Linked DNA regions of Homo sapiens: region 1 is linked to region 2. The links come from fine-mapping of genetic effects on gene expression. Tissue or cell type: tibial artery. Region 2 holds a variant in brackets; the other region holds the start of a gene. All regions are shown on one strand. Distances are between the middles of the regions.

Region 1 (2,683 bases), 240 kb after region 2:
AATTATAGAGTTAAAGATGCTATTTATTTTCCTTTTTGCAAATTTTCAATATTCTCTAAATTGAATATTCTCTATCAAGGGGTGTATATAACTGTTAAAATTAGGGATTTTGGGGTTTTTTATTTTTTTTTGAGACGGAGTTTCGCTCGTGTTGCCCAGGCTGGAGTGCAATGGCACGATCTCAGCTCACCACAACCTACACCTCCCGGGTTCAAGCGATTCTCCTGCCTCAGTCTCCCGAGTAGCTGGGATTACAGGCATGTACTACCATGCCCGGCTAATTTTGTATTTTTAGTAGAGACGGGGTTTCTCCATGTTGGTCAGGCTGGTCTCGACCTCCCGACCTCAGGTGATCTGCCTGCCTCGGCCTCCCAAAGTACTGGGATTACAGGCGTGAGCCACCACCGCGTCCGGCCTAAAATTAGGTTTAAAAAAGTAAATGCTAAATTAAATAATTGGCCCAAATAACCTAGATTCCAGGTAACTCAACTTTGTTCTTGGAATCCATTCTTCTAATATCCAGGATGTGGGCAACTTAAACAATTATAAACTATATTAGAAATAACAACATAAGACACATATTCCAACAAGAACGTTATAGAGCTGTAATATGTTTTTAATTATTAAGCAGAAAGGTCAAGTCTATGTTCAATAACAATACGTTCCTTGGGATCAAACAATATGTTCCTTGGGATCAAAAGTTGCATCTTTCATCATGCAGTCCTTGGGATTAACTGCTAAATAAATCACCCTTATCAGCTATTGTTTTACTGCAGAAGCTACTGCTAAAGGAAAAGACTTCATGATATTAACTCAAGAAAGTGCAAAATGCCTTATAAACAAGTGCACAATTTCCCTCCCAGGTTCCTGTATCTGGAAGGGCCCCCAAGATCTAGGTCTTAGCCCCAGCTGGTTACTAACTGGCTGGTGGCCATGGATTCTGAACCTCGGTTTCTCCACCTGTGAAATAAGGGGGTTTACCGGGATGGACTGACATGCTACAAAAACGTTATTTCGACTTCACTTTTATAGGAGTCCAGGGAAGCCTGCACCAGCCAGCTAGCTCCAAAACCAGGATGGGCGGGAAATCCCCGCAACGAGATGCAGCCCAGAAAAGCTAAAGGAATATTCAGAGATTTGGCGTAAGTCCTCAGCTCTCCAGCGGACCACCTGGTCTCCTTCCCGGGCCACCCTTGCAAGGACCAAGTGTGGCGGGATGTGGCTGAGCCCCCTCAGTAAAGGAAAGGTCTCGCTGCCCCTCCCCTCATCCCGAAAGGCCACCAGCGGCAATGCGAAGTGATTGCCTGCTCTCCGGAAGCCCGGCCTCCCCGAAGGTCCCTCCACGCACCGCCGCCCTCACCCGGGACTCACCAGGGGTCCGGTGCCATCCTGCAGACTCCGCCCGCCGCTCGGACTCTTCCTGCTCTTAGCAGCTGACTACGGCGGCCCGCGCGGCTCACTCCCCGCAGTTCGTCCCGTGCGCGACCGGAGCCTGGAGTTTGCAAAGTGAGTAGCTAGGGCCTCAGAACTATAATCAGAGAAAGCAAAGCGCTCCCCTGCGGACAGTACACTGGAGCAATCTACTCCCACCAAGAGACGCGAACTGCTAAGCTCAGTTAAAATTGTTAAATAGAAACAAAGCATTTTCCCAGGAAGGTGGGAGCGCTGCAAGACCTCTCTGTAGCAGTTACTTAAAAATTTATCCTGCTTCAAAAACAAAACAATAAACAAAACACTAGATTGCGGTGAGACTTGCACGCTGCGTAAACTCACTACAACCTACTTTAAGTTAACTTTATGATATGTAAATTATACCTCAACGCTTTTTAAAAAATCTTTAAAATTTTTTTCACACTGCTCCAAACAGGGGCCCAAAGAAGTATCAATTATATATATTTTTTATAGCAGCCTTCCTATCAGTCCTGTACGCCTGATTACATATTTTTTAAATGCCATTCATTCGGTGCTTGATTTTAGAGTTACTAAGAAGTCACAGACTCTACACAAGGGGATGGAGGAATTAGTTCTGCGCAGTTAGTGCCATCCCCTAAATTTCCAGAGAAATAGCACAAAAAAAAAGAAGAGGAGTCCCACCCCATCTCTCTTCCAGTCCCCATACCCCTTCATTTCCAAGAATGCTAATGAACTCGAACTCGGCAGGCTGGGTTTCTGCGCGGGCGTGGAGCTGGAGCGCATGCGCTCGTCCGTTACCATAACGACCAGAAGACGCTGCAGCCACTAGGGAGGAGAGCAAAGTAATCAGAACCTCCCAAGGATGGATAACAAAATTTCGCCGGAGGCCCAAGTGGCGGAGCTGGAACTTGACGCCGTGATCGGCTTCAATGGTGAGGCCTCCAGCATCTTTGGGCTGGCTGGTTTAGGAATTCGGAGGACGTGTAGTGCAAACAGGAATAGTGAGACACCGGGGACACCTGAAAGGCAGTGTGGGACAACGGCAGGAGCCCTGGCCAGGGACACGCACAGGAGGACCCGCACAGCCTGACCTGCCCCAAGGCCTTGGAGAGTCACTTCCTCGATCCAAGCCTCAGGGAGTGAGATGGTTTTTACCAGCTCGGACAAGCGCCAGCACCTAAAAGGGACCAAATGCCTCTTCCCCAGGCGGGCCGGATGAGTACGGGTGGTTGTAACCCTTCTCCCACTAGGTCAGCCCTTCCTGGCTCTG
Region 2 (2,683 bases):
CAATGAATTGGACGTTTCCAAAAAATGTGCTTTCCGCTCTCAATTTGCATCGCCAATGCTGCTTTCCCCAATGAGTCCTGTGCACCTGACTAGCTTGTAAAAATGTCACCTTACTGTTAAAGTGCTAAACACGCCCTGTTTTTCCTCCGCCTGTTCTCTCTCTCCCTCCCCCCTCTCTGCCTTTTTCCTTCTGCAATTCTTTGCTTTCTCATTAGAAATGCCCAGCAACGTCTGGCAGACAAAGACACTGCAAACAAAGTGTATGGAAAGGAAAAAAAAAATTAAAAGGGAAAAAAGTGCAGAGGAATTCTTCATTCACGGATCTGTAGAATACATTAATATCTGAAACTGTTGGCACAGCCTAAAATACTTGGGCGGCTAACAATGCGGGCAATGATTCCGAGTCTGGGATCTTCAAATAAACCCCAGCGCTGTCATGGCCACCAGGAAGGAGAATAATGGCGATATTAGCTGACCTTCATTTTGTTGTTTCTTCAGTCCTGACTGCTGGACCTCTGTTTGCTTGTTACTAGGATTTCTTAGCTGAAAAATTTTAGCATTTCCCAGGCAATACAAGAGCCAGTTTATTAGGTAAATAAACCAGGCCTTAAGCAGTCTTTTCTGCTCCATAATGGGAAATGGGCAAATTGGAACGAGGGTTGAGTTGGAGTCAGGGAGAATGACTCAGAGGCAGAGATCTCATCATTTCCCCCTCATCCAAAACACCAATGAACAATGCGGACGGAGTTAACAAATCATCAGATCGACGTGCTGCCTTTGGTTAACTTAACCAACATCATCCACCAAGTAAGGAAGACAAGATTCACAAAAGGAAGGGACAAAAATAGCGGCTTTCTTCTTCTAGAGACCTAGATCTGTAATGACATTTCACTTCTCCCAAGGTTCCAAGGAACTGGAGACTATTTTATAATTCATCCAAATGGAGCTAATGGTGCTATGTTTCAGTCATCTGTCATAAATGCTTAAACATTCTTATGTTATTCAAACCATTGTCTAGTGACAATCTTAACGATGTTAATAAAATCAGTAATGCAGAACTGGATCCTTTTTCAGAGTCTCTACATCCAGAGGGCCTTCTGGCTGTCTAGACTGTAACACAATTGGTAATTATTACATTTATGTGTGCCTGCTTACTGTTTACTATCTCGATTCCCTCCCCCAACTGCAATATAAGCTCCCTGAGGGCAGGGACCACCATTGTATCCTACCTCACCCAAC[A/G]CAGTGCCTAGCACCCAAGACGTATTTGCCTAGGGAGGTAATGATATTTTTGGCTACCTTTGGGGAAATGCATCCCATCTTTAAAAGCTTTCAGCTGCCACGCCCAAGGGCTTCAAGATGAGAACGAGACACAATACTTCTTAAAGCAGAGTATTCCCCTACCGAGAATGAAGATATGCGTCCAAGTTTCCTGTCGCTTCCAGCTTTCAATTCTTTTTTAACTGTGCTTTCTTTTGGGATTAAAAAATAATAATCTCAATTTTTAGATTCAGGAGGTACATATACAGATTTGTCACATGGGTATATTGTGTGACACTGAGGTTTAAGGTACGAATGATCCCCTCAGCGAGGTAGTGAGCACAGTATCCAATAGGTGGTTTTTCAGCCTTTGCTCCCCTCCCTCTCTCCCCCACAATAGTCCCCAATGTCTTTTGTTCCCATCTTTATGTCCATGTGTATTCAATGTGTATCTCCCACTTATAAGTGAGAACACATGGTATTTGGTTTTCTGTTCCTCTAGCTTTCAAATTAAAATAACTTATTTTATTTTTTTTGAAACAGAGTCTTGCTCTGTCACCCAGGCTGGAGTGCAGTGGCATGATCTCGGCTCACTGCAAGCTCCGCCTCCCGGGTTCACGCCATTCTCCTGCCTCAGCCTCCCGAGTAGCTGGGACTATAGGCGCCCGCCACCACGCCCAGCTAATATTTTGTATTTTTTTAGTAGAGATGGGGTTTCACTGTGTTAGCCAGGATGGTCTGGATCTCCTGACCTTGTGATCCGCCCGCCTTGGCCTCCCAAAGTGCTCGGATTACAGGCGTGAGCCACGGCGCCTGGCCTAAAATAACTTATAATAAACACTTGCTTCAAGCAGGAGGTCATGTAAATAGATATAACACACACATGTTTTTTAAAAGTTACACAGTCATTTTGTTGGAAAACATGGAAGACATAGAAATTTTTCAGACTGCCTAACTGCTCAATGGGTTCACCTTACCCAATTTGTAACTGCCCAGTGGGTTCACCTTACCTGCTGCCTAGACAGAGCCGATTTCTCTAGACAGGGGAATGGCAATAGAGAAACAGTAATTATCACAGAACCGGCTGAGCAGGAGACTGGAGTTTTATTATTACTCAAGCCAGTCTCCCTGAACATTTGGGGATCAAGGTTTTAAAAAACAATTTGGTGGGAGGGGAGGGGCAGTGAGCTGGGGAGTGCTGATTGGTTGGGTCGAAGGTGAAATCATGGGTCGTCCCTGTCTTCTTGCACTGAGTCAGTTCCTGGGTGCGGGGGGGTGTGGGGGTGGGGGGCAGTCACAAGATCAGATGGGCTGGTTTCTCAATCTGGGTGGTGCCGGTTGATCCATCAAGGGTAGAGTCTGGAAACCATCTCAAGTCCTGACTGTAGGAGCAGTTTAGGGAGGGCCAGAATCTTGTAGTCTCCAG

Evidence for each region. PIP is the estimated chance that this variant, and not a neighbour inherited with it, causes the effect.
Region 1: it holds the start of STX8, and the variant in region 2 is fine-mapped to the expression of STX8 in tibial artery (GTEx, PIP 0.98).

The regions. Positions count from the first base shown.
Region 1 is chr17:9,574,421-9,577,103 of GRCh38, forward strand. STX8 (syntaxin 8) reads right to left here and starts at 1,400. Exons shown (of 8, transcript NM_004853.3): 1 at 1,372-1,400. The coding sequence starts at 1,388. It overlaps CFAP52 (cilia and flagella associated protein 52), which reads left to right and starts at 2,222. Exons shown (of 14, transcript NM_145054.5): 1 at 2,222-2,345. The coding sequence starts at 2,276. RefSeq lists enhancers at 1,383-1,562, 2,355-2,484.
Region 2 is chr17:9,331,613-9,334,295 of GRCh38, forward strand. All of the region lies in intron 7 of STX8 (syntaxin 8), which reads right to left. Among named protein-coding and RNA genes, the nearest start is that of STX8, 240 kb to the right of the region's middle. The variant A/G (reference allele first, on the strand shown) is at 1,240.